Linked DNA regions of Homo sapiens: regions 1, 2 and 3 are each linked to region 4. Evidence: fine-mapped expression QTL. A gene starts in region 4. Each other region holds a variant in brackets. All regions are shown on one strand. Distances are from middle to middle.

Evidence for each region. PIP is the estimated chance that this variant, and not a neighbour inherited with it, causes the effect.
Region 1: its variant is the best candidate, but not a certain one, in a credible set for the expression of OXTR in spinal cord (GTEx, PIP 0.57).
Region 2: its variant is the best candidate, but not a certain one, in a credible set for the expression of OXTR in esophagus mucosa (GTEx, PIP 0.60).
Region 3: its variant is the best candidate, but not a certain one, in a credible set for the expression of OXTR in whole blood (INTERVAL, PIP 0.88).

Annotation. Positions count from the first base shown.
Region 1 is chr3:8,863,778-8,871,306 of GRCh38, forward strand. No RefSeq gene overlaps it. Among named protein-coding and RNA genes, the nearest start is that of RAD18, 96 kb to the right of the region's middle. RefSeq lists an enhancer at 5,573-6,772. The variant T/G (reference allele first, on the strand shown) is at 3,339.
Region 2 is chr3:8,788,272-8,795,800 of GRCh38, forward strand. No RefSeq gene overlaps it. Among named protein-coding and RNA genes, the nearest start is that of OXTR, 22 kb to the left of the region's middle. The variant G/A (reference allele first, on the strand shown) is at 3,430.
Region 3 is chr3:8,647,507-8,655,035 of GRCh38, forward strand. It overlaps a transcript of SSUH2 not described here. Among named protein-coding and RNA genes, the nearest start is that of SSUH2, 6.5 kb to the left of the region's middle. The variant C/T (reference allele first, on the strand shown) is at 3,921.
Region 4 is chr3:8,767,457-8,774,585 of GRCh38, forward strand. It overlaps OXTR (oxytocin receptor), which reads right to left and starts at 2,157. Exons shown (of 4, transcript NM_000916.4): 1 at 1,775-2,157; 2 at 1,040-1,135; 3 at 1-873. The coding sequence starts at 731. RefSeq lists enhancers at 1-280, 953-1,624, 2,272-2,321 and a silencer at 602-661.

The DNA.
Region 1 (7,529 bases), 97 kb after region 4:
TACTGTCAGTTCCCTGGCTGAGCAGAGCTACAGGCCCATGGGAGAGGACTGGGGAATGACTGCACCATGCCTGGCCTGAAATATTTAGAAGAATGGCCATATCTGGGGTTGCACCATAGTACCCCCAAACCCACCCCTGGGGCAGGAGAGGGTGTTGAAAGGAGAGTCCAGCAAAACACATATAGAACAGGCTTGCTGTTAGGATGTAGCATCTGTTCCCACATGGTTTTGGCCTCCCCTTCTGTGGGGGTTTGGTTGGTGATAACAGAGAAGCAATAAGGTGTGAAGTGACAGTGCCAGCCCATCTGAAGATAAAGCTGCTGGACAGGCAATTTGCACCTAGGAAAGGAAGGGCCCCTGTAACTGCCAGACTCCCCATCCGTCTGGCCAAGGCTGTCTCGGTGCTGCACCACCGCCCGAGGGTCCTCCTATGTATGACTCTCCCTTCCCCCTCTCTCTCCACAGGGGTGCAAAAGTGGTTGGAAGTCTCTCCCCACCTTTTCCTGCTCCCTCTCCTTTTTGTCCGACACAGATGTTCTCTCAATAAATCTCTGGCCAGTCTAATTCCATCTTGGCATCTACCTCTGGAAGAACTGGGACTGATATAGAGGGTGGCAGAGGGGCTGGGGGTGATGGCTGGGGGTATTCACGAAGGAGGGCAGGGGGAGGCGGCTCTGCCCAAAAAGTCCTGACTTTCCCATTCCTGGCTGTGACACTTGGCTTCCTCATCAGTTTGAAATGGTTAGAAAGTGGGACATCTGGGCTGGATTTTAAAACACACTACATTATCTAAGGTGTAAAAGAAGTGAGTTTGGCTGGCAGATGGGAGAAAACGCTAACGATAAGAAGTGCTAGCTGGTAATTAGTTCCCTTAAGGAACTCACAGGAGCTCCCTGAACCACAGAGTGGATGGCACATACACGGAGGCAATTCCACGCCATGTTGCCCAATCAATTCTAAAAGCCCCGGCCCACAACCAAGCAGCAATTAGGAGATTGGAGAAGTGAAACTGGAAACTGAATCCAAATGACTGCCATGTCACTCCAACTCAAGTTCATCCTTTCCGAAAAGAGGGGCATAAAAGGGACCTCAGGGATGAAACCCTTGCCTTGGGAGGGTGAGCAGCTGACAGGAGGGTCAGGAGGGGCTACCACCAGCGAGGCCAGAGTCAGGACCTGCAGCGTGTGACCGGAGGGTGGAGGTAAGAATGTGGGCACACCTATTCCTCCCGCAGGGGGCACTTTCCAATATTAGCTGTTCTGTGACAGGGGACAGGCTTGAAAGACAGAGCCCAGGGACAGAACCACTCATTTGTGACCATCAAATCCCATGGCTTTAACTAGAATGAGATACTACATACGTAATGTCTACAGAAAACTGGAAACTTAAAACCGAAACCTCAGCGGAGAGTTAGCCAGTGAGAACGAGGTATTCCTACCCAGCTCCCAGTTTGCCTTAGCTACAGGGAAACCTAAAACTTCAGTCACAGTTTAAGTGCCTAGTTACTGATTTTCCTTTGTCTCTTTTCTTTTGTTTTGGCCTTAATTTTCAATGTCCACATTTTAGACTTTATTTTGTCAGAGTAGAAATGTTTATTTTTTTAATTTATTTTTATTTTTCGAGACACAGTCTGGCTGTCACCCAGGCTGGAGTGCAGTGGAGCAATCTTGGCTCACTGCAACCTCTGCCTCCCGGGTTCAAGCAGTTCTCCTGCCTCAGCCTCCCCAGTAGCTGAGATTACAGGCTCACACCACCACGACTGGCTAATTTTTGCATTTTTAGTACAGACGGGGTTTCACCATGTTAGCCAGGCTGGTCTTGAATTCCTGGCCTCAAGTGATCTGCCCACCTCAGCCTCCCAAAGTGCTGAGATTACAGACATGAGCCACCGCACCCAGCCTGAAATATTTAGAAGAATGGCCATGTCTGGGGTTGCACCACAGTACCCCAAAACCCACACCTGGGGCAGGAGGGGGTGTTGAAAGGAGAGTCCAGCAAAACACATAAACAATTTTTTTGGTAGCTGTGATTTTATGGTCTGTATGTGTAATGATCATACAGAAATGCCTGTGTGTGTATATGTGTGTGTACATGTGTATGTGTGTGCGTGCACGTGTGTGTGTGTGTGTGCGCATGTGTGTGTGTGCGTGTGTGCATGTGTGTGCATGTGTGTGTGTGTGTGTGTGTGTGTGTAGTTCTGTTTCATTTTTTCTGTGTTGATTAATGGGAGCTCACACAGCACAGCCCACTTGTGCCACCCTCTTACTGGTAGCACATGCCCTCAGGACTGGTGAGGGCAGGGTCCAGTGAAGTTCTGTGCTAACCCAAATATTCAAAGAAGTGGGTGCTAAAACGGAGCACATACATTCATAAGGCAAACCTAGAAGCAACAGAGGACCAAGGTTAAGAAAAACCCAACATGACCCTAGAAATTCTGTCAAAAAGGCAGGTCCAGTTTCCTAAATGATCACAGCCAAGGGCGAGCCACTAAGAGGTGCAATCCAAGTGCAGATGATGCTCCCATATCCCTGTGTCTGGGCAGGGAAATAACAGACCAAATGCATAACTAAGGTGGGCAGAATGATGACCCCCAAAGGGGGGCCACACCCTAATTCCCAGAACCTATGATTACATTAGGTTGCACGGCAAAGAAGAATTAAGGCTGCAGATGGAATAGGAAGGTTATCCTAGATTATCTGGGTGGCCCCATTTTCATCACAAGATCCTTAAAGTGGAAGAGAGAGGCAGAAGAGGAGGTCAGAGAGAGGTGATATGAGGACTCAGCCAGTTGTTGCTGGCTGTGCAGATGAAGGAAGAGCTACAGCTTAGGGATATGAGCAGCCCCTAGCAGCTAGAAAAAGCAAGGAAATGAGATTCTCCCCTAGAGCCTCCAGAGGGAATGCAGCCCTGCCCACACCTCGATTTTAGCACAGTGAGACTCATGTTGGACTCATAACTCATGGAGCTCTACGTAATAAATAGGTGTTGCTTTAAGCCGCTAAGCTTGCGGTAATTTGTTAGAGCAGTTACAGAAAACGAAGACAATAATGTCCCTGTACCTGATTACCTTCTGCCAAAATGGCACTGCTCAGGGTTCTGAGCACATTCAACGCAGGCTAGGCTAAGCTAAAACATTTGAGGGGTTAGGTGTATTAGACGCAGTTTCAACTTACCATGGGTTTATTGGGTCATAGCCCCATCATAAGTCAAGGAGCATGTGTAATAAGAACACGAAGAAATATATTTGATAAAGTATAATAAAGGAGGTGTACACTAAAGCAAAGCTCCATTTGGATGTTAATCCAAGCACAGAATATGAATTGGTGGTGATCTGATGA[T/G]AGGTGGTCTGATCTCCCCCAGCGTGGCCTTCCCCTGAACTTCATCTCTCCACGGTGGCCATGAGGCCTCTGCCTAAACACTGCTACCACTGGGATGTGGCCACGTCACCAGGAGTTCACGTGGTTTTGATTACTAGAAAGATTTTCCATACTAAGCTGAATCCGTACCCCTATAGCTTCCATCCACTGGCTCTAGTTATAGTTCTTGAAGTGCTTAGAATATTTTCTTCACTGTGAGGCTATGAAGACAAGTGCCACGTATATATCCTTTCTAAAGTTCCCTCTCCCCTCCCAAGCCTAACACATATGGGTCTTTCATTTATTCCCCACATGCTGGACAGGATCCTTTTCAACTACATTCCCCCCTAAAATGTGGCACTCACAACCAAATACACAATTCCACATAAATAGAGTGGTAGGGGCAAAGTTCAATAGTTCCAATACTAGATGTAAGAGCTGCACCACTCCCACCCTCTCAAATGGTAGACTAGAGGGTCTCCACGGACTCTTCTAGCCCTGATGTTCCAAGATTCTAAGAGGAAGGTACCTAAGAATAGACTCGTTCATGCAACAAATATTTACTGCTTTTGTACTAATTTTATTATACCCTCCCTTGGCATTTATAGACAACCCAGATCAAGGGTTTTACAGTCCAGCTTGGGTCTGCAGGGCATCCTCTGCAGTTGCCAGTCCTCTAGAGGCTCAGGAAGTGGGCGTTCCAGAAGCAACGACTGCCTTCAGTGACAGCATGAGCTGCCCAAAGGCTTCCAAGCACCTTAAAACCTATTCTCTTCTGAAGAGCCTTCCAAGTTGTGGATCTTGGAACTCTCTGTCCCTTGTTTTTATTCTGCAGATACATATTCAGACCTGTTTTTGTTATCTCAGATCCTAAGCCTCTGATTCAAAAGGACAGAGCCTATGGAATAATCATTCAAAAAGGGAAAGTTGAAAGCAGTATCTAAATCCAAGGCATTAAAGTGGCCACGCTATCAAAATCTTTGGCCCACTAAGTTCACTTTTAAGAATTTGTCTTACAGATTCACACACACAGAAAGACACACACACACACACACACACACACACACACAATGTGCATACATATATATACATATGTATATTTTAGCTATATTTATAATAGAAAAAGATTGGAAATCTAAAAATATCTCAGTAGGAAACTGGTTCAAACAATGTGCAACCATACAGAACAATCCTATTCAGCCTTAAAAACAAAAAGGAAACAATAATATATAAAAAGATATAATGTTAAAAGAGAAAAGCAAAGTACAGAACAATGTATCTAGTATGCTACCATTTCTGTAAAAAAAAAAAAAAAAAGAGGACTGCATATTTTCTTGCATGTGCATAAGACATCTCTAGAAAGCTTCACTAAGAATTGGTAGAAACTGGTTGCCTCCAAGAACTCAATGGCTGGAAAGTTGTGGCGGCAGGAAGACTTTTTGCTGTATATTCTTTTGTGCCTTATGAATAATAAACCATGATAATATACTGCTTAAAAATAAAATATTTTATAATGTAAATAAACAAAGTAAAGGTATTATGATGATATTATTGCAGTTGCTGTAAAACAGCCAAAATGCAATTGAACACCTAATAAAAATAATCTGGTGATAACTATAATACGCATCTGGACTTTTCTCCAGATAGGCCCATTTTACAGATTTAAAAACATAAATGGAAAGGTGAGAGGACTCACTCAAGATCCCACGGTGAGCCATTAACAGTTTTAACTGTACTTTGGTAATCAGCCCTTCACAAATCCAGATGGAATTCAGTTTGACTCTGACTTTTGTGTTTCAATTGTGTGGCCTTGGGAGAACCCCTTTTCCTCCCTGAACTAAGTGTCCTCATCTATATAATAATAACATTGGACTAGGTAAGCTTTAAGGTTGATTTTATGACATCTTGAACTTTAGGTCAAGAAAGGTAAAACAATATTTCAGGCTTCTTTTTTTTTTCGTGATAACAATTTGCCCCAATCCTTCACACAACCCCTCATCTGTTCCCTGATGAGAATGAATCAACATGCTCACAAAAGCAGAGCTTTGTATCCGTAACAAAAACCTCTGCTCTTCTTGTTGTAAAAACTCCCGAGAAAAGGGATGTGAGTGCTGAGCATTTCAATAAGACACAGAGATGCAGGATAATCTGTTCAACAGAAAGGAAAGCTATTAATAAAACCCTTGAAGGTACACAGGAAGATGGAGTGATAGCTTTTAATTACTGAGTCTCTTAGTCATCTTCAAATGAAGATTTAAAGATGTTGTGCATCTGACACAGAGGTTCAAAGCAAAGGTCCAAAGCAAAATTAAGTTTAGGCCCTAAGAAATAAGACAAAAGATAAGTATTAAATGAAAACAGAAAATTATTCCCATAGTTTAGGTCCTTATTGATGGTCCCTGTAACAATTTGTTAGTTGGGAGAGCATGTCCACACTAGAAAAGTAACAAATTTCATCCAGACAAAGCATTTAGTGTTGTGTCCAATAAGCCTAAAATAAAGATTATTGTACACTTCAGTGAAGACACATGCATACATTGAGTCATAGGAATTGGAGAAAAAAGTGAGTAGTTCACATAAATAAAACAGTTGGTGTTAGTTTCATCCGGTTGAGCCAAGCATTTCAGGGACAGCTGAGAAGAGCAGAAACTGAAGAAAGGAAGAGATTGCTTCAATGGGTCCCTGACTCACTTGATCAGATCTCTTTGCTCAGAGATGATTCATTCCACACTGATTTGCTGCTCACCTAATACGCTCAGATGTTGTTCAGAGCACTGGAATGCAGAGGTGAACACCACCCAAGCAAGGTCCCTGATCTCACAGACATCACATTCCAGGGAGAGAAGACATTCAGTCAACCATTAGTCTTTTGGTTTTTTCTTTTCACAAATAGTTTTTGAATGCCTACTGTGTACCAGACACTATTCTAGGCCTGGCAGACAGTAGCAAACATGGCAGAGTCCCTCCTGCCACAGGGCTTACATTCCAGTAGGGAAAGAAAAGCAACAAACAAGCAGGCAAATAAATAACTCTGGACAGTGCATATTATGAAGAAAAGAAAACAGAGTCTGGAACAGATACTGATGTGGAGGAGCGAGGAGGTCTTTTAGAAAGAGAGGTCCAGGAAGGCTTTAATGAGAAGGTGACATTTGTGCAGCTCTCAAATGATGAGAAGCAGCCAGCCGTGGGAGGATCCCAGAGAAGACGATTCCACACCGAGGAAGCATGAGAGTGAAGCCCTGAAACAGGAGCAAGCCTAGCATGTTTAGCAACCGTAAGAAGGGCTGTGTGGCTGTAGCCCAGAAAACAGCAAAAGAGTGGAAGGGCACAGGCCAGCGAGGTGGATGAAGCCCGGGCCATCCAGGACATTTACATCATAGTAAGAAATTTGGTTGAGTTGAAATACATTGGGTGGTCATTGGAGGACTTGAAGGAGGAGAATAATATTTGATCTACATTTCTTTTCTTTTCTTTTCTTTTCTTTTTTGAGACGGAGTCTCGCTCTGTCGCCCAGGCTGGAGTGCAGTGGCGCGATCTTGGCTCACTGCAAGCTCCGCCTCCCGGGTTCACGCCATTCTCCCGCCTCAGCCTCCCGAGTAGCTGGGACTAAGGGGGCCCGCCACCACGCCTGGCTAATTTTTTGTATTTTTTAGTATAGACGGGGTTTCACCGTGTTAGCCAGGATGGTCTCGATCTTCTGACCTTGTGAGCCACCCGCCTCGGCCTCCCAAAGTGCTGGGACTACAGGCGTGAGCCACCGCGCTCGGCCTGATCTACATTTCTAAAAGATGGCTGTTGGGGAAGAATCAGCTATGGCGGGATAAATGTGGATTATGAGAGAAACCAATTAGCAAGCTAGAACAGCAGCATCACTGAAAGATGATGGTGGCTGAAATAAACATGGTAGCGGTGGAGGGCCTAAGGAGTGGAGAGATAGACGATACATTCTGAAGGGTGCACCAAGAAGAATCCTGGTGATGGTAGGATGTATTGGGTAAAGACAAGAGATCAAAGATGAGTTCTAAAACAACATGAAAAGAAAACCCGATTAAAAAATGGGCAAAGGACTTGAGGAGATATTTCTCCAAAGAAGATATACAAATGGCCAACAAGCATATTAAAAGATGCTTAATATTGCTAATCATTAGAGAAATGCAAATCAAAACCACAATG
Region 2 (7,529 bases), 21 kb after region 4:
CATTAATATGAGGTTAGCTGTGGCTTGTGTGGTGTGTGTGTGTGTGTGCGCGCGTGTGTGTGTGTGTTTTATAGATGCCCTTAATCAGATTAAGAAAGTTCCCTATATTCCTAGTTTGTTGAATATTTATCATAAAAGGATTTTGAATTTGTCAAATGTCTTGATAGGGTTGGTATGTTATAATGTTTAATTTTCTGATGTTAAACAAACCTTGCATTCCTGGAATAAATCCCACTTAACATGGTATGTAATGCTTTTTATGTTTGTGGACTCAGTTTGTTAGTATTTTCTGGAGGAATTTTTGCCTATGAGAGGTATTGGTCTGTAATTTTCTTCTAATATGATACCTTTGTCTGGTTTGAGTATCAGAGTAATGTTGGCCTCATAGAATTTGTTGGGAAGTATTCTTTCCTCTTCTATTTTTGGAAAAGTTTGTGGAAAATCAATATTAATTATTCTTTAAATGTTCACCAGTTAAGCCCTCTGGGACTGAGCTCCTTGTGAGTAGTTTTGACTAAAATTTTTTTTACTAATTTAATATCTTTATTTGTTATAGGTCTATTCAGATGTTCTATTTCTTCTAAGTCAGTTTTGGTAGTTTTTGTCCTTCTAGAAATTTTTTCATTTCATCTAACTTTTTGAACTTAATTGTCATACAGTTGTTCATCATATTCCCTTATGATCCTTTTAATTTCTGTCAGTAGGTCTGTGAAGTCTTTTATTCCTGATTTTAATAATTTGAGACTTCTCTTTCTTTTCAACTTGGTCAATCGAATTAAAGTTTTGTCAATTTTGTTGATCTTTTCAAGTAACCTAACTTTTGGTTCTGTTTATTTTTCTCTATGAATTTTATTCCCTATTTTATAAATTTCTACTCTAATCTTTATTATTTCCTTTATTTAGCTTGCTTGGTTTTAGTTTACTCTTCTTTTTCTAGTATCTTAAGGTGGAAGGACATGTTATTGATTTGAGGTCTTTCTTTATAATATACATATTTACAACTATAAATTTTCCTCTAAGTACTGCTTTGTCTGCATCCCATAAATTATGACATGTTTTTGTCTTCATTTTCGTTCATTTCAAAGTATTTTTGATTCATCTTTAGGATTTCTTTATTTGGTCCATTGGCTATTTAGGAGTATATTCTTAAGTTTCCACATATTTGTGAATTTTCCAAATGTTCTTCTCTATTGATTTCTAATTTTACTCTCTTATGTCCACAGAACACACTTTGTGTCATTTCCATCCTTTTAAAGTTATTGAGACTTGTTTTATGACCTAACATACGATCTATCTTGGAGAATGCTCCATGTGCATTTGAGAAGAATGTGTATTCTTCTGCTGGTGGGTAGAGTGTTCTATAGATACCTATTAGGTCTAGTTTGTTTATAATGTTGTTCAAGTCTTCTGTCTCTTTATTGATCTTCTGCCTAGTTGTTCAAACTGGGATATTAAAGTCATCAACTATAATTGTTGAATTGTCTATTTGTCTCTTCAATTTGTTTCATTTATTTTGGGGCTTTGTTATTAGATGCATATATGTTTATAATCGTTATATTTTCCTGATGAATTTACGCTTTCATCATTATAAATGTCTCTCACTATCTCTAATAATTTTTTGTTTTAAAATCTATTTGTGTTAGCCAGGAGCAGTGGCTTACACTTATAATCCTAGCAACTCAGGAGGCTGAAGCAAAAAGATCTCTTGAGGCCAGGCATTCAAGACCATCCAGGGCAACACAGCAAGGCCCCATTTCTTTAAAAATGAAAAAATTAACCAGGCATGGTGTCAAATACCTATAGTCCCAGCTACGGGAGACTGAAGTGGAGGAATGCTTGAGCCCAGGAGTTAGAGGCTGCAGTAAGCTATGATCATGCCACTGTACTCCAGCCTGGATGACAGAGGTAAACCTTATCTCTGAAAAATATATATATTTGTCTGATATTAATATAGCCACTCTGGCTTTCTCATGGTTGCTATTTGCATGATATATTTTTTACATCATTTTCCCTTCAACCTTTTATCTTTGAATCTAAAGTGTGTCTCTTGAAAACAACATGTAGTTGGATCTTTTTTATCCAGTTCACAATTGCTTTTTAAATATCAGTGTATTTGTCAACATTATGAAAAAGACCTATATGTATTTATATTGTTTAAAAATAGTTTTGACCTCACAGACCCCTTGAAAGGTGTCTGTAGTCCATTCTTGGAGAACCACTGCAATAATAAGCATTTATTTAGCTTATGCATGTGTGAATTAGCTGAGGGTGGACTGCTCTAAGCTGAGCCTGGCTGGATCCTTTTCCTTGGACCAGCAGGCTAGTGTGTAGACATGTCCTTCTTCTGGTGACAGCAGAAGCTTCAGAGGTTAAGGAAAAACAAATATTTTAAGGATATGCCTTGTTACATTGGTCAAAGTGAGCCACAAATTCTTGCACAAGTCACATGATCAAACACAAAATTGAGGGGTAGGGATATACATTCCATCCTTTTCGTGACAGCTGAAAAATGCTTGCAAAGGATGAGAAGACAGGCAATAGTGAAAAAAAAAATTAGGATGATTTGCAATCTACACACAGGTCAAGAGTGTAAGCAGAGTAACCAGCTAAGAGCTACCACAGCTAGAGAGAGAATGACGCTTTGGACTAATGGTGAAGAGGAAGGGAATTGGGTGTGACAACTGGGGAAGAAGAACCCCAAGGTGAGACCACAGGGTGACTCTCCACCAGCACTTGCCTGGCAGGGATACTGCCAAATGCAAGGATGTCCTGGCACCTTCCTGGGTGGATAGAAACTAGTCCTGGTGCCCCTCAACCTTGCTTCCTTGATACTTTCTCCACATTTTCCCAGGACTCTCAGACAATCCAGCTGTGCCTTGCCCCTTAGGAGTTTACCCCTTAGGGATTCTTATGGCTGAATGGGAAATGCTCCATAGTGATGGGGAAAAGCACATTGAAAAATGGCATAGAGAGTACGGTATGGCTTTTTTTTTTTTTTTTTCAAAAACAAAAAATCAGCTGGGCATGGTGGCTCACACCGGTAATCCCAACACTATGGAAGGCCAAAGCAGGTGGATCACCTGAGTCAGGAGTTCAAGACCAGCCTGGCCAACATGGTGAAACTCCATCTCTACTAAAAATACAAAAGTTAGCCAGGCGTGGTGGCGTGCGCCTCTAGTCCTGGCTTCTCGGGAGGCTGAGGCAGGAGAATCGCTTGAACCTGGGAGGCAGAGGTTGCAGTGAGCCGAGATTGTGCCATTGCACTCCAGCCTGGGCGACAGAGCAAGACTCCATCTCTAAAAATTTAATTTAATTTAATTTAAAAAAAAACAAAAAATGTTTTCGAATGGTATTTACTTATATGATCATAGAGAAGATATCACATTGTTAACAGTGGTGAGTTACCTCCAACAGCTAGACTGGTGTTAG[G/A]TGAGGGAACTACAGCATTTTGCTTTATACATTTCAGCACTGTCTGGACTGGTAAACATGTAGGCAATATGTTAGTTGAATGAATGAAGGAATGGAAGGGAGGAAGGAAGGAAGAAAGAAAGAGTCTGTCTTCCATTCAGCAAAGCATGAGGGCCAGGCACTAACAAAGGTTGAGATCTATACCCAAAGCTCCAGAACTGGCTCCTCAGGCCCTATTCTCATCACTGGGCCTCCCTCACTCTGCCCCTTGGCTTCCTTCCCATGAAGGCAGTGGGGCTTTGAGTAGATGGAACCACAGCTCTGAGACTTACTGGCTGTGAGACCAAGTCTCCCAGCTTCTCTGAGCCTCTGCACTGTATCATTTTGAGAAATTGATGAAATAATAAATTCTAGGTGCTCAGCATGGTGCCGGGCAAGTGGTAAGAACTCTATAAATAAATGTTCACTTTACTTTGCTCCTCATTCTGTTTGAGGCATGGGTTGGGCCCTTGCCCAGCTGCCAACCTCCTGATTTTCTCTGAACATTGCCCCTTTTCTTCTGCCTTCATCAGCCTTGCCCTTAGGGGAATGACAACTCAGGAACAACATCCCTCCTTCTTCACCTTCCACCTTCCACAGTGACCAAGGCAGCCTCTCTCAGAAATGGTCTGATCAAGGCATTCGTGTAGAGATGCTATAAATTTAACATCTACATATAATTTCAAGTGAGCAAGACCTACAGATGCAGAAACTGCTTACCCAACAGAAAGGAGCATTGAGGTGAATTTGGAGAGAGACTGGGGAAAAGGTGGGATTTCCTAGTGTGCGAATCAGAACCTCTGTATAAGGCCATGCCATGGGAGAATGTCTAGGGAGGCTGGCCACAGAGCACTCCAAGAAAAATGCTGACCTGGGCAGGAGCAACTCTCACAACAGAATGCATCCTGTGCTTCCCCCAGAAAGAAGCCTCCTCCCTGATCCTGCTGGCCTTTCCCTCTCCATCTCCCCCAACCCCTGAGTAAGCCCAGGATCGGCAGAAGAGCCTCAGTTCCTTCTTCCCTAAGGGACCCTCTGTGATGGTATCTGCCATAAAGCAGCCACAGCAGCTTTGGACTGCAGTGTGGGTCAGACAATGCCCTGCAGTCTTGGCTCAGCCACTCAGCAGCTGCAGGGCCCTCAGCAAGCCACCCACCTCTCTTGGCTACATCTTCCTGTGTCAGGAAGGCCATCTTGCCATCACTGTTGGAAGGATGTGGGGAGACAATTGATGAGAAATTTTCCAGCTCAAGACCTGAGCTGGTTGAGGGAGTGTCAGAGTTGCATTTGGGGATAACAAGCCCTAGAACATGCCCCTAGCAAAGACAGCCTTCTCAGCGTCTCTATGACCCTGAGCTCCTGTTTCTGAGGCCTCATTTGGGGAGCCAGCCATCCCCTCCAGTTCTAGTGAGCATGCATGAACGCTAAGGCTAGAGGCAGAGAGACGGCCGAAGTCACGGTGTCCAACCCAGGAGGCGAAGGAAGGCACGATGCCTGGGATGCACTGGGCATCACTCTGCTTGCCTATAGGGAAGAGACAGGCTAATTCTGGCACCAAGGGACAGAGAAATTATCCCCAGACAGAGGCCAGATGGCAACGCTGCTTGAGGAAACCCGATGGACACAATGGACTCTGAATCACCGTGAGTGGTGACTCAAAGTCTTACAGACATTAGCTAATCATGAACATGACTGCAGGCCATCAGTGACTGGGATCCCCCACGCCAGGCTAACATCAACCCTGGACATCAGTCAGATCCTCAGGCAGGCATGGTCCCTTCCCTGTGTCACGGCAAGCTCCAGGCCACTCAGTGGGCAGCTGCAGCCATCCCTGAAGGCACAGAAAGCAGTCAGAGATTGAATTCGGATAAGCAGCCTTAGCTTTTAAAGACAGATGCAACACACTTAAAAAACAGGTGGCCCCGGCCGAGCGCGGTGGCTGACGCCTGTAATCCCAGCACTATGGGAGACTGAGGCGGGCAAATCATGAAGTCAGGAGATCGAGACCATCCTGGCTAACACGGTAAAATCCCGTCTCTACTACAAAAAAATTAGCCGGGCGTGGTGGCAGGCGCCCATAGTCCCAACTACTCCGGAGGCTGAGGCAGGAGAATGGCGTGAACCTGGGAGGTGGAGCTTGCAGTGAGCCGAGATCACGCCACTGCACTCCAGCCTGGGCGACAGAGCGAGACTCCATCTCAAATAAATAAATAAATAAAAATTAAAAATTAAAAAAAAAACAGGTGGCCCCCAAAGACATCCCTGGATGTCATAAAGGTACCAATTGCAAATACCTGGAAATGATACTTGAACAGAGGATAAGGATTCTGTCGTTATTTTCCCTTCCTGCTGAAACAAATACGTTTGTGCAACTGTTAAATAGCACCGTGGGTATACAAAGGTCGAACAGCCTTGCCTTGCTTGCTCAAAGTGTACTCCATGGGCCAGCTGCACTGGCATCACTTGGGTGCTTGTGAGCAATGCAGAGTCTCAGGCCCACCCTAGAGCTCCCAGAATTACAGAATCAGAATCTGTATTTTAATGAGGTTGTCAGGTAATCTACATTCTTACTGAAGTTTAAGCGCTGCCCTAATACACATAATCATTTGCCTATTAAGTTGTTTCCCAATAACACGTTTATTGCAGTTTGTTAGAGGTCTACATTATGTCAAGCTGTTGACCCCCAAAGATGCAGGTGCAAGACAGACCAAATCCTGCTCTCAAAGAGAGCAGGGGAGAGACAGATAACACATGCATTCTACAGATAAGATTGCTCCAGACTGTAGGAAGTGTTATGAAGAAAATAGACAGGGTGATGTTTCTGAGTGTTTAGGGTGATCAGAGAAAGCCTCTCGAAGAAATGGCCTCTGAGTGGGGTCTTGAAAAATAAAAAGAATCCAGACATGCCAAGAGCTGCAAGAAAGGCTGAGAGAAGGGGAGGTTCAAAGGCCCTGAGATAGGCACGCAGGCGGCAAGACCGAGGAACAGAAAGCAGCTGTATGACCACAGCATGGAGCAAAAGAGGAAAGCAGCAGGCAGGAACTATCAAAGGCCTACAAGGCATGGCATGGAATTAGGATTTTAACACAAGTGCATCAGGAAATCACTCATGAGGGATAACGAGCAAAGGGTCAGGATCTATTGTACACTTTTCTCTGTGGCCTGAAGCAGCAGCCATTTGGTTGTTCATGACTCCCTGGGTCAGGGATCCAAGCAGATCCCAGTGGGACGGTTCATCTCAGCTCCACCAGTTGTCAGCTGGGGAGGGTCGACAGGAGTGCAGGATCCACAATGGACTCACTCACAGGTCTGGGGTGTCAGTGTCAGCTTTTCATTGGGGGAATGCACTTCGGTGCCCCTGCTTGTGGCCTCTCATCATTCAGTGCTCTCACCCAAGCTGCCTTCCACAGCAGCCAGCTTCCAGGAGCCGGCTTATATTTTTAACAGATGTCTCTGGCTGCTGGGTGGGAAAACGATGGTAAAAAGGGCAAGGCTGGGAGCAGGACACCGGCGAGAGATGGTGGTGACTTGGATGGTGATGGGTGAAGGGGGCATGGCAGGAATGGACTGACTGCAGATGTCTTTGAAGTTGAACCAATACAACTTGCCAATCAATGGGATGTGGTGGAGGAACACATGGGAGGAATCAGAGATTATTTCCAAGACTCTGGCCTGAGCAACCCTATGAATAGTGATTGCCCAATGTCACTCACTGAGATGAGGAAGCACAGGTTTGACTGGCGGCAGGAAGGCAGAAAAACAGAGGGTCATATTTTTGACATGTGTATTTTCAGAGGCCTATTAAACATCTGAGCGGAGATTTCATAGAGTTCACCAGGTGAATGGTCTGAAACTCCAGGGAAGGTGTGCACTCAAGATGTTATGAGCAGAAAGAAAACACTTACATCCATGAAGAGAAGGTTGGTAGAGAGGGAGGTTCAGGCCAGGGCCCTGGCACCTCATCATTTAGGGGGCAGGTAGCAGAGAGGGAGCCGAGGAGAGTGCATAGACGCACGCAGCCAGGTGGGAAGAAAACCAGCAGAATGAGATAGTGTGAGAGCATGGGAGGAGAATGCTTTCCATGG
Region 3 (7,529 bases), 120 kb before region 4:
GCCCCTTTCCAGAACATCCCTGAAGGACCGTGGTGAGGAGAAGTACTCCCAGGGGGCAGAACCTTGAACAGTGCCTGGTCTGGTTATTTCTTTTTGTCTCAGAGAAGCCGGCTATTGCTCAGCTCCTGCTGGACGAAGGTCTCACCCCACCATCTACAGAGCCCTCACTCTCATTCATCCAGTGAATGCTCCCTGCACATCCACCAGGAACCAGGCCCTGCCTCGGGCCCTCACAACCCAACCGAACCCAGAGCCACCCAGAACCCCCACAGGAGCCAAGACTGCCAACAAAGGAGTTCTGCCCCAAAGGGCCTGGCAGCCACAGATAACATTGTTGTTGGCTTATCTGCAGGCTGGGTGGATGGAGACCAGTGGTGCCCATGGCAGGAATCAAGTATGGAGTGGAGGAGAATGGGCTTGACACAAATAAGAAACTTGTCCAAGTAGGAGGTTCTCGAAACACCATGCCCAAGCACCCTCCTCTCTCTGGGAGCCAGGGAAACTGGCATATCCCTCCAGGCCCAAGTCGTGGACCTCTAACTGCACAGACAGAAAACAGGGACTGAGATCTTCTTGATGCCCCCCAAATACCACATAGGAAGGGAGATGCGTTCACAGATGCTTTCTCAGTTAAACCTTCACAACAACTCCGTAAGATAGATATTGTTCTCCTTATAGACGAGACAACAAGGGCTTAGAGAGGTTGAGTGACTTACCCAAGGTCACACAGCTCTGGTGCGGCAGAACAGGAATGAGAGCAAGTTGGCACCAAGGCCCTGATGTAGATGACAAACAATTCTGTGTGTTGTTATGTGTCGTTGTAAGAAGCTAGGGGAAGGAGCGTGGCATGGTTTTCACTGACCTGGCTACTTAGTGGCTTGGCCCGTGTAAGTCTGGCTACCCAATCAGCTGAACAGAAAGCAATGGAGGAAAGCTGAGAAACTACGATGCCCGCAGGCCAGAGGCCTTCAGGAAGGTCACCTTCCACCTTTCCTTTTCCTAGCCAATCCTGAACCTTTGTCTCCTCAGCGACAGCAAAGCCACACTTTAGCTGGTGCCCCCCCATCCTGAAGTCTTTCTAGAAGCTTCCAATGAGTGCTCACCAAAGCACTACTCCCTTCTGTGACTCTGGTCTGCTGCTGCCCTGGGCTTCCCTCTATCACCTCCTCCAGGCCACAGTGCCCCTTCCCTCATTCCCTTGATGTAGCTGAGGCCCCTCTTGGAAGGCTCCCAAAACACAGGTGGGGAAATGATTAAACACAACACAAAACTTAACCTTGACCCTGGATACATCGCAGCTCCAGGACTCTACCAATCCTGATGCTCCAGGAACCCAACTCATCAACTTTCTTAAGAGACTCTGGCCTGCCCCCACCGTCTAATGGTGGCCTGGTCACCTTCCCCTGGGTGCTTTAGTGAGTGCTGGGCTGCCCTCCCAGGTCCCCTCAGGATGAGAACCTCATCTCCAGCACCTGGCCAAGCCCTTCCCTGACTCACCCTGGGCCTTCATTCAGGGCAGCTCTGAAGGGCTGCCCTACTTCTGAGCCCCTACCCTCCAACAATGGGCAAGACCTTTGCCCTGACTGCAGCGCAACTCAACTCCTCCCTCTGTGAAATCCTGCTGCCTTTGCTTCCTCACAGGACTTGATCCCAAGAGCACCCCCAGCTAACTTCCCACACACAAAGGTCCTCCTCCTCAAAGTCTTCTTCCCAAGAACGCTGCCTGCAACAGGAACTTTCGCCACATCTTACCACATCTCCTGGCTCCTGCAGTTCATGAAGAGGGCAGGAATTGCATTTCTCCTCATTCCCAGAGCAGGTCCCAGGAGCGGGCAAGGTGGGATGGTGGCTCCTCTCCCCTGATCTCTAAATATCAGGGTGTCTGGACCCATTGTGTGCCCGTCCATCCGTGCTCACTCCCTTGGTGACCTCCTTCAGTGTTATGGTCGTCCACGCACTCATGATTCCCAATTTCTGCCTCTGCTTTGACCTCTCCTCTGAACTCCTGACTCCTCTATCTGGCTGGGACATCTCCCCTCAGTTGTCTAACAGACACCTCGAGCTCTCTCTGTGTGTTCAGCACTGAACTTCTGGTCTCCACCTGCTTTCACTCCCCCTTTTCCTCATACCCGCATTCAATGTCAGCAAGTCATATCTGCCTGGGTCCTCTCCCAGTCTGCTTCCTTGCTCCCACTCGTGCCTGAGCCCCCTGCCCCCCTCACCTGGATTGCTGCAGTCACTTCCTCATGGGCCTCCTATCTGTTGCCCTCGCCCTGACAAAGCCCATGCTCAATTCAGAACTCAGACTGATCCCTCTACACCTGTAAGTCAGGAGACAGCCCCTCCTCTGCTCAACACCCTTCCTGGCTGCAAAATCACTTGGACTAAAAGCCCAGTCCTTGCCGTGCTCTGCGAGCGACCCCCTGCACCCTCCCTACCAATATGGCCTCTGCCTGCTTCCCTTCAACCCTTTCCTCCAGCCCCACCAGCCTCCTCATCGTTCCTGGGTCACACCAAGCACATTCCCACCTCAGGGCCTTTGCACTTGCTGTACTGGAGACCTGGAATTCCCCTACAGATCTCTACACAAACTGTTCCCTCACCACCTTCAGGCCTTTGCTCAAATGTCACTCTCCCAGGGAGGCTGTCCCTGGCCCCTATTTAAAATTGAACACCCTGCCGCCACCACCAAATCTCCAGTCTCAGACCCTCTTTCCTGCTTTTGTTTTTCTTCATGGCACTTACTTCTATCCAACACATTAACTAACTTACTATGTGTTTTGTTCAACACCTGTCATAATCTGGATGTAGGCTACCAAGATAAAAATCCCAAAAAGCATATTTGTGTCTGTTTAGTTCCCTGCTGTATACTTAGCACTGTGAACAGAGCCTGGAAAATAATAGATGCTCTATAGACATGTGATGAATGAATGAATAAATAAATATATTCTTATGCAGGGACTTTATCTTCCCATTGTCCTGGACTTCTAAACAGTTTTCTCCAAAGATAAGCTTTGTTCCAACTGTGGGGAAACTGATAGAAGAAAAAAGAAGGCCACTAGTAATTTTTAAATACCAGTTTGTCCCTGTTTCTAGACATTTACTTCTTCAAAAACAGGGATCCAGTCTGAGTGCCACATTATAGGAACAGCAGGAAGGAGTTCAGTTTGACCCTGTGGCTCAAGCCTTAATGAAGGATGCTTCCCTGGAAGCTGGGACTACAGGACGCTCCATCCCCGTGGTTGGAAAACTGACCAGTGACAGCTCCTGCTCCATCCGTGGCCTTGACTCTGGAAGACATTTCCCAGGGAGCTCTTTTGTGGGTCAGTGCAGATGCCCAGCCTGGGGGCTTCAGATTAAACCAACTAAAACCAGTTTCTGTGGTTCCGGCTGCTGTCCTCACTGGGCTAGAAAATGGAAGAGGTTTTAAATCGTGGCTCCTGGCAGGCAAGGAGAACAGAGTGGCTCATTTCCAGCAAAAGGCAGAGATGCTAATCTCATAAGGCAGAAGGCTGCCTGCCAGCAATTGCACGCATTTTGCACGGTCCCTCCGTTTCTCCCTTCCTTCCTACTAATCTGATCCATTTATCTACAAAGCCAATTTGGAATTTTAAAAGGCCAGTCTGTTTGGTCACTGAAATTTTCAAACACAAATTCAATTTGCTTTGCAAGGCACCACCAGCCTTCCCAGGCCACAGGACAACACTAACTTCCCGTCCTTGTGTTTGCAGAGGGGTTTCTGTCATAAATGCTTCGGGATCCAGCCCATTGCATCTCTCGGCTATCTCAGCAAGCGGGGAGGCAAGTGAGGGAAGCCATCATTGCTGACGGTGAGCACTTGTTGGGACCTCAGAATTCTTTTTGTTCTACTTCTTCACTGTGCACATGGGGAAACTGAGGCCAAGAGAAAGGAAAGGACT[C/T]GTTCAGGCTCACATGGCAGTGAGTAGCAGACCATGGCCCAGGGCTTCCTCCATGACAAATACACTTTGAATGTTGCCCTGAGGTCCCCAGAGGTGAAGTGACTCCTGGGGCCACACAAAAATGGGGAGCAGGAGCAGAATGAGGAATCGTGTATTTTTTTCACATGTTATTAAAGAGCTTTGATTCCTTGCAGAGACCTTGATGGGTACCAGAGCGATAAGTAACATCAGACATAGCCCCACTGCAGAGTCTCCCATGAAGCCAAAAGTGGCAGAAATCATTTTTTCCTCCATCCCCTGATGTTAGGCCTCCCATCTAATGTCAACTGGAGAGACAGCCCTCAGCAAGGATGGATGTGTTCCCATGGCTCCACCCTAATTCTCTTTCTCCCCATGCCAGCTCCTCCCCTCCTCTGCCTCTTCACCATCATGCCCAGCCACACATACAGGAAACCCCTAATTATCCTCAACTTCTGTCTCTTCTCTTCCCACTACACACACCTCCTGCCAATCTCTCCTCCCTCCATCTCCGTGGCGACTGCCTCAGGCAGGCTTTCACTCACCCCTCCATCCGGGGGTCTCTGACTCCCCTCCGCACCTGCTTAGCAGTGCCAGCCAGTGTGAGCTGTTCTACAGCGTGTCCCGCATGCACAGTGATGACCAGGAAACGGTGGAGGTCAACCATCCATCCCCAGAAGGAAAATCAAACAATCACATGATCAGGATGACACACAGTGTCCAAAGTGCGACAGAACTCTCCCACCTTCCCTGTTGAGTCCTTGATCCAAGCACACAGAGCCCTCCTCGGGATCTCTCTGATCTTCCTCCCTCTGCACCTGTACCACAATCTCCCCCAGTCCCAGGGTCTCAGGTGCTCTGTGATCAGGAGTAGCCTTATAGACCAGTAACAGAAATGGCTTTACCATCTCCAGATTTTTCCCAATCAGACATCCACAAGTCAAGCAAACCTTTGTGTCACTAATAGCAGCTGCCTTCCATGGCATAACCTCAATGCTTATCATGTCTACCCAGACTGTCTTCTATTCCTGCTGCTCAGAGTCCCCCTCCCAAGAAGGGAGGATAAGAGAGAGGAAAGAAAGGGGAAGGGTGGAAAGCTTTTCCTGCCTACTTAGATCTGATTAAGTGTCTTGCTTCAAATCTTTTATGGCTCCTTATTACCCTAGGATAAAGTCCAAATCTTCAGCCAGCCTCCAAACAGCCTTTCCAGCCTTAGCCCTCACATGTTTTCCCCTGATATACCTATATCGAGTTTTATGTATACAGTTTCCCCCATTTGAAACATTCTCCTTCTACCATTTTCTCCCTGGCAAACTTCTACTCATGCTCCAAGGACCATCTCAGATGCCCCCTCCTCTAGGAAGCCTTTCATGATTTCCCTGACCAGAAACAACTGTTCTCTCCTCTGTGTCTTCAGGCCACTCTCCACAGGTCTATTATTTTGGAATATAAGCATGTGACTGACTCCCCCTTTCCCTCAGGCCATCTCCCTGGGAGTGGGGAGGAGACTGGGCTCCTCTTTGTCCTGGGGATCGGCTACCTAAATGCCCTGAAGCTCTGCCATTGTACCTGGCTTCCAGAGCCAGCTCCACATCCACTTGGAGAAAGAGAATCCACAACCAAAAACCGAAATGATAGCCACAAGAATGGACACCTTTTTGGATCTAAATTGAGAATCACATGGAGATGTATGTCATCCAACTCAAACCTGGTCATCCATCTGGCTGGACATGAAGAAGGTCAATGTTAATCACAGACCTCAGAGCAAGAGGCAGGAGCCGCAGATGTCATCTGCTCCAAACTCACTTTCATTGTCCTCTTTTATTTACCTTCACCATTACTTTTTATATTTATAAAAGAAATATCCTAATCCTTAAAAAATCAAAGATTCAAAAGATTAAAAACTAAAAACTAATGGTCACCCCACCTCCAATGTCCACATGTCAATTTACATGTAAATTTGCTTATAAGTGTGCATACACTTAGAATTTTTAAAAAGCGTAAATGAAATCATGCTGTAAATATTGCTCATCCTTTTTGTTAAGAAGAAACAAAAAATACAATATGGATATCTTTCTGTGTCAACAGCATACACAGTTTTACCTTGTTCATTTTATTGTTGTTGCTGTAGCAGATTTTACATTTAGCACACAATCCGGTTTAAATTCAGGCACTGGGCTGAATACGAATAACATAGAAATAACTAAAATATTGTTCACAAGACTTTTGTTTTTACTGATAATTTTTGAATGAGATTATTTTTCTTTGTATACATTTTACTGAATTATAACACAAATCCTTTAAAAAGCACAAATCTTAAAAACACAACTGGATGCATTTTGACAAAGTAAATGTACCCGTGTGACCAAAACTCAGATCGGGAACAGAACATGACCAGATTCTGAAGCCACTTTAGGCCACTTTCCGGTACTCACTCTCTACCTCCCGACCCTTCCACCCCACCCAGTGGGAACCGTTCCCCTGCCTGTAACAGCATGGCTCAGTTTTGCCTGTTGAACTTGATACATTTGGACTCAAACAGCAGGCACTTGTATTAGTCAGCTCAGGCTGCCATGACAACAGACTGGTGGCTTAAATGACAGAAATGTATTTTCTCACCATTTGGATGGCTGGAATTCCAAGATCAGGGTGCCAGCATGGTTGGGTTCTGGTGAGGGCTCTCATCCTAGCTTGTAGATGGCTGCCTTCTTGCTATGCCCTCATGTGGAGAGGAGAAAGAGAGAGAGCAAGCTTTCTTCTGTCTCTTAGAAAGGCACTAATTCCATCCTGGGGACCCCACCCTCACGACCTCATCTAAACCTAATTACGTCCTAAAGACTCCATCTCCAAATACTATCACATTAGGGGGTAGGGCTTCAACAGATGAATTTTCAACAAAAGAATCTGGCTTCTTTCACTCAACATCATGTTTGTAGAATCACCCACGTCATCTCAGTTTCCTTTATTTCTAACACTTCGTAGTTTCCCATTGTAGGAATGTATCATGATGTATTTAACCATTCTCCTCTCAATAGACACCCAAATTGTCTCCTACTTCCCTGCAGTTACACTGCTGTGGTTTAAAGATAGCCTTGTACTTATGTCTACACATGTGTGTGTGTTTCCATAGGGTAAATTAGTAGGAATAGAACCGTAGCACCTCACTTTACAGACAGATGCCGGAGCTCCAGGGAAAATATAAATATCTCAATGTCTCAGTGGGTGTCCTCCCCAAGGTCTCAGTGTGCGGCCACTCCAAGATCACAGTGTGTGGCCTTCTCCCCAAGGTCTCAGTGTGTGGCCTACCCAAAATCAAAGTATGTGGTCTTCTCCCGGAGATCTCAGTGTGTGGCTTCCCCAGGATCACAGTAGGTGGCCTCTTCCCCCAAATCTCAGTGTGTGGCCTCCCCCAGATCTCAGTGTGTGGCCTCTCCAAGATCACAGTGGGTGGCCTCTTCCCCCGGGTCTCAGTGTGTGGCCTCCCCAAGATCACAGTGGGTGGCCTCATCCCCCAGTCTCAGTGTGTGGCCTCCCCAAGATCACAGTGGGTGGCCTCATCCCCCAGTCTCAGTGTGTGGCCTCCCCAAGATC
Region 4 (7,129 bases):
GGCGCCTCGGCCGCCGCCGCTGCAGCGGTCTTGAGCCGCAAGTTCTGCCAGATCTTGAAGCTGATAAGGCCGTAGCAGGCAGCGAGCACGATGACCGGCACGATGTAGACAGCTAGCGTGATCCATGTGATGTAGGCCTTGGGTCCCCAGGGCTGGATGAAGACGGCCCAGCAGTCGAAGACGCCGTCAGCCACCTCGCGCAGAGAGAAGATGTGCACCTGCGGCGCGCTGGCCACCAGGCAGCCGAGCCACGTGGCGAGCACTGCCAGGCGGTCGGTGCGGCGGCGCAGCGAGCGCAGCGGCTGGCAGATGGCCAGGCAGCGGTCCAGGGACATGAGCAGCAGCAGGTAGGTGGAGGCGAACATGCCCACCACCTGCAAGTACTTGACCAGGCGGCACAGCAGGTCGGGCCCGTAGAAGCGGAAGGTGATGTCCCACAGCAACTGCGGCAGCACCTGAAACACTGCCACCACCAGGTCGGCGATGCTTAGGTGCTTCATGAAGAAGAAGAGGCGCGAGTGCTTCTGGCGTGTGGTGCGCAGCGCCAGCAGCACACACGCGTTCCCGCTCAGCGCCAGGAGCAGGATGAGACACAGCACCGCCACCTCCACGCGCGCCAGGGCCTCGTTGCGCCGCGGGGGTCCGGCGGTGCGGTTGCCCTCGGCCCCCGGCGGCGCGGCGCTGGCGTTGGCTGCCTCGGCGCTCCAGTTGGCTGCGAGCGCGCCCTCCATGACCCTGGCGGCAGCGGTGCGCCCCGGCCTTCGAGCCCTTTACGGCTTGGCGCGGCTGGGCCGGATCCGGCGTGTCGGAGGGTGTAGGGGCGCCCGGGGCTCCACTCCTGGAGACTCCACGGACGGATCTGCTGGGTCCACCCTGAAACAAACCGGGAGGGCCGTGAGGAGACCGCCGCGTTTCTCTTCCGACGCGGGTAGGGCGTGCTTGTCCCATTCCCAGGAACCCAACTCATCTGAAACAACAGGGCACAACCGCCGGCCTCGGGTTGCTCAGCCGCCACCCCAGAAATCCCCGTTGGAGGTACCTCCTCTGAGCCACTGCAAATGAGCGGGAATCCTCTACCGGCCACAAGCCCAGAGCCCCCAGCGTGCCAGTTCCTCGGGATGTTCAGCGGCTTCCACTGGGGGAGAAGGGAGGGTCAAAATCAGCAACGTTCCTCCGGGAGTGGGAATCTAAAACCAAATCACCTCCCCGAGGGAATCTCCAAACTACCTACTCGCCCCAGGCTCCGACCCTCAGCATATCCACCTGCCGCGGGACCCCCAAACCAGCCCCTCTCCTAGTAAACATTAATTCAAGTACTTCCTCCGGAAATCCCCAAATAGCCACTTGCCTGGGAAACCCCAGCTCTGGTCCTTCCCCGTCTAACCCCCTTTTCTAAGACGGTCGGCCGTCACTCCCTGAACTTCCACAGCACCTGCTTCGGTGGAAACCCGGTTCTGCAGTCCCTGCTGGGGGAACCCCTGCCTCAAAGCCCAAGATGCCCAAGCGCTGTTCCCAGACCCTGGCATAGACACCTCCCGCGGGGCTCCTCCCCAGCCCGGCAGCCTCGAAAGTTCTGGAACCCCTGACTTGCGCTTTGGACCCAGATAATCAAGGACTCTGAGTCTCAATCCCGAGAAGTCACTTTACAATCTCTCGGAACACCCCGAGCTCCTCCAGGAACAAGGAGTGCGAGGCACCCCACCACCTCCACTCGGGTCCCGATGGCTCCACCGGCCCTAGCCATCCCGTCCACCCCTGCTTAGCACCCAGCTACCTGCACCGAGTCCGCAGGCGAACCTAAAGTTGACTCCCCCCGGGGAAGTTGCACGGCGACTGACGGCCCCAGTGACGCGTGCGCTCCCGGCCCGAGTTGGGATGGCCTGCCGGCTGCACCTAATGTGATGCTAAGCTGAGGTCTCTCACTGGAGCCTCGGTTGGAATCCCCTCGCCGCAGCCTGGCTGGTCGCTGGATGGGTACAGGAGGCGAGCGAGGAGCGCCTCCCAGGCTGCGCGCGCGGACAGCGTCTGGATGCGGCGCTGTGCGCTGGGGCTGAGGCTGCACTATCGCACGGGTCCGCTAGGGGGCGGGCGAGGCCAGCCGCGCAGACCCCTCCGGAGCGGAGCTGGTTCGCCCAGCGTTGGTCCCAGAGCCTTAACAAATGGGTTTATTTTGCAGTGGTTTAAAACTGCGAGAGGGAGGGAACTCGTCAATAACCCGCCCGTTTCTTCCTTTCTTGGTTTAGAAGCTCTTGACTCCGAGACACATAGGAGGCTTGAATAATAATGTTCTTCCCCGGGTAGATAGTGATGAAGTTACAAAAGCATTTAAACTGATTATTTCCCAAAAATGATGTTAATTTTCAGGCTTTTCTCTCCCCCCACACCTCCAGCTTGATGTAGCGGCTTTAGCAGTGAACTCAAATAAGTCTTTGCTTTGGAATACTTTTGTTCCTATTCCCGTTAATGAGGAATTAGAAATGGCCTCTATTCTAAGCAGTGCTGGGAGAGGCGTTATTTTTTCGGTAGTTTTAGAGGAAATTCTGAAGCACAACACTGTCTTCATTTAAAGTGATTCTGCTTGTCTGCGCCCAAGAGCCGTTTCTGCCTCCTTGTCGCGCTTCGGAATTAAAATTCTAAATGATGCCAAAGGAAGATAAAATGTTAAAGACAGCTTCTCAGCCTCCCTGCCCCTTCTCTATTCTAAAATCATTTTTTGAAGTAATTTACAGTGGCCAAGAATTAAGTCAGAAAAAAAGGCCAGGATTCAAAAATAAACAGGGCTCTTTAAAATGCATTAAATGTGTATTTCCTCCTGACATTTCACTTCTCCGTCTTTTTATTATGTGGAGAGACTTGAGTTAGCCAAGGACTGGGTTTCCTTAATCCACAATTACAGCCCCATGCCGAGATATCCCAGGGGCCAACCTTACAGCACCTGGATCCCAGGGTTCTAGCTGAGTAATCATTCCAGAATGGGGCTGGGAATCTTGACAGCATTGCCAAGGGGTGGCAGGCAGTATTAATCAATATTAGTCAATAGTACCTATCGGCCTCGAAAATTACAGATTAAAGTTACAGACGACTCAGGTGAGAATGAAGTGACCTTGGGCAAGCCCCTTCTCTTTGGGCCTCAGTCTCCTCATATGTAAAATGAGAGCACTGGTCAAGATAGCTAATGTCTGAGGTCCTGTCCCTCTGGTTTTCTGAAACTGTATAATCTGTGCAATCTGAGGGTTCAATCCTAGCAGGTAAAACACCCCTGCCTCACTCCACGGCTGGATGAAGGCAGATTTTTCCCTATGAGCCCCTGACCGGTGAATGTGAGAAGGAAAACACTGGCCTGTAGAACCAAGCCTGCCCTTCTTTCTCCTGGAAGACAGCTGCTTTCTAGGGAGCAAGTTTACTGAGCCACTTCACCAAGGACAGACTCTTCTACCCTTTGTAGGGAAGCCTGCCTACCTGTGTGGTCCTCGCGTAGCCCGTGAGACAGCCTAATTCTGGATTCACCTAACAGGGCTATTTAGTCTCATGCAAAAGGTAAATTCTCTAACTTAGTTTTAATCTAAACAACAACAATAACAACAACAGTAATAGTGTGATCCCCATTTCCTGTCTTTTGTTTTATTTCTCATTGTGTGCAGAAACCAGGCAGGAAATAGAGAGGTCCCCTTGAAAACTCCTAACAATGAATAAGACATGCTCCTTCACCTTTGAGCTTCGGCCAGGGAGAAAAACACATATTAGATTGGTGCAAAAGTAATTGTGGTTTTTGCTATTAAAAATAATGGCAAAAACTGCAATTACTTTTGCATCAACCTAATATTTGCAGTGTGACAACAATAAATGATGTTACAGAAGTGAGGACTGCTGGGGGCTGAGGTAATACTTGGGAGATCGTTTTACAAAGAGGTAGCTGGATTTCAGAGCTCCAGAATGAGTTCTCCAGGAAGCAAAGAAAAAAGGCATACTTCTCAGAGAGTGGTGCAGGGGAATCACTTTGGCGTTTTGGAGGAAGGACTAAAGATGAATTGCTTGGTGCCTAGCACATTGCCAGCACTTAATACATACAGTTGGCCCTCTATATCCCTGTATCTGTGAGTTCAGTGGATTCAAACAATCATGGATTGAAAATATTCAGGAAAAAAAATCCTCAAAGTTCCAAAAAGCAAAAATTGAATTTGTCATGTGCCACCTACAACACTGAATGCACACAAATGCAGTGACGAGTGACATTGCATTAGGTGTTACAAGTAATCTTGAGATGACTTAAAGTATGTGAGAGGATATGCACGTGTTATATGCAAATACTGCTTCATTTTATATCAGGGATTTGTGTACCTTGAAGGCTCCCGGAACCAATCCCCCATGGATACCAAGAGATAACTGTACTTATTGATGCTAAAGGAACTTCAAGGCCATGTAAAGGAGAATGGGTTTTATTCTGTAACCCAACATTCCCCAAAATATGGGATGGAATACTTTCTGATAGTGTTAAATGTGAATTTAATATTGAGTGATACTGAATAACAGGGAGGAAATTCAGTTCTCAGTTCTGCTTACTTTTGACGTCAGCAAAGAGAAAGTCTGATATAACAAAAATCATGAAGGTGCTAGTGTAAAGATGACTGAGGTTAGAAGGCATTGGTGGGGAAGGTGGGGTGCCTGGAAGGACTGCAAGCAAAACAACGTACTCAAATCTGTGCTTGGTGAGAGAATGCTGGTAGCCACAGGGAAGATGGGAAAGGAGATACTGGCATTATGAAGGCCTTGGAGATCCAGGCAAGAGATGCTGTAGGCATGGACAAAAGATGTGACATTACAGGGTGTCTTTCGGTCTTCCAAAGAAACAGAACCATTGGGATGTATATATGTAGAGAAAGAGATTCATTTAAGGAATTGGTTCATGTGTTATGGAGGCTGGCAAGTCCAAAATCTTCAGAGTGAGCTGACAGGCTGGAGACCCAGGGAAGAGCTGATTTTGCAGGTCAAGTCCAAAGGTCCTCTGCTGCGGAATTCCTTCTTGCTCAGGGAGGTCAGTCTTTTGTTCCATATAGACCTTCAACTGATTGGATAAGCCCACCAACGTTATGGTGGGTGATCTACTTTGTTCCAGATGTTAATCTCATCCAAAAATACCCTCACAGAAACATCCCGAATAATATTTGACCAAATATCTGGGCACCATGGCCCAGCCAAGCTGACACACAAAATGAACCATCACAGACAGAGATTCAGCAATCCCTGATTTACAAATGTCTTCATCTGTCTGAGTATCCGGGCATCTTTTTTTTTTTTTTATTTTAAGTTCTGGAGTTCATGTGCAGTATGTGCAGGTTTGTTACATAGGTAAATGTGTGCCATGGTGGTTTGCTGCACCTATCAACCCATCACCTAGGTATTAAGCTTAGCACATATTAGCTATTTTTCCTGATGCTCTCCCTCCCTCTGCCCCCGTGACAGGCCCCAGTGTGTATTGTTCCCCTCCCTGTGTCTGTGTTCTCATCATTCAGCTCCCACTTATAAGTCAGAACATGTGGTGTTTGGTTTTCTGTTCCTGTATTAGTTTGCTGAGGTTAATGGCTTCCAGCTCCATCCATCCTGCAAAGGACATGATCTTGTTCCTTTTTATGGCTGCATAGTATTCCATGGCATATATATCTATATATATCTATATATATATATATCTATATATATCTATATATATATAATCTATATATATCTATATATATATAATCTATATATATCTATATATATATAATCTATATATATCTATATCTATATAATCTATATATATCTATATAATCTATATATATATAATCTATATATATCTATATCTATATAATCTATATATATCTATATATAGATTATATAGATATAGATATATATATATATATCTCACATTTTTTTCTTTATCCAGTCTATCATTGATGGGCATTTGGGTTGATTTCATGTCTTTGCTATAGTGAATAGTGCTGCAGTGAACATACATGTGCAGGTATCTTTACAATAGAATGATTTATATTCCTTTGGGTATATACCCAGTAATGAGATTGCTGGGTAAAATGGTCTTTCTGGTTCTAGGTCTTTGAGGAATTGCCACTCCATCTTCCACAATGGTTGAACTAATTTGCATTACCACCAATAGTGTAAAAACATTCCTATTTCTCCAGATCCTTTACAGCATCAGTTGTTTCTTGACTTCTTAATAATCACCATTCTGACTGGCATGAGATGGTATCTTATTGTGGTTTTTATTTGCATTTCTCTAATGATCAGTGATGTTGACCTTTCTTTCATACGTTTGTTGGCCACATAAATGTCTTCTTTTGAGAAGTGTCTGTTCACGTCCTTTGCCCACTTTTTAATGGGGTTGTTTTTTTCTTGTATCCAAGCATCTTAAAGGTGGGGCCAATATTGTCTATACCTGTACTTCGAAAGGCCTAGGTCACTATAGAATAGGCACCTTTCAGGTATTTGTTAAATACAGAAGGATAAAAGGAAGGGGGAAAGGAGGGAAGAAATAAACATCTCCATGGGCAGAACCAGGCCCTCTGGGGAAGGTATCCTGCCCAGAGAATGACCTGTCCTGTACCCACTTCTGCCTCTGGGAACTGGGTCTGAGTTTTAGCATCTTGGGAATTTTCCAGCCCTGGCACATTTATTTCAACATGGATCCAAGCCCAAGCGGCCTTTGCTCTATTGTCAGAGTGGAAATGAGCTATAAACACATCCAACCTACCCCCTCCCTAACATCACCGCCTCCCCAGCCTGCCCCCAAATAACTTCTCAGCCTCTGCTTGGGCTCCTAGCTCCAGGAGGGGGGTCAGTGACATGCTCTCAGGCATAAAGGCTGAGAACACATTGTAGCAATCAGCCTGCTGCTGGCACACTTGATCTTCTTACATTTATAGCTCTGTGCGGATGCAGGCACATCAGGGCACATGGGCTGACCTGGGAAGTTCCTGAGGCCGTGCCAGGATGCTGTGTCAGGAGGCCACTGCTTATAGGTAGAACTTGCACGGATTCCTTCTAGCCTGTGTGATTTTGGACTTCCCAGCCTTTGTTTTCATTCCTGTGTTCCATGCAGGGTGGAGAAAGAGAGAAAAATGTGCTTTCCTATTGGAGAGAG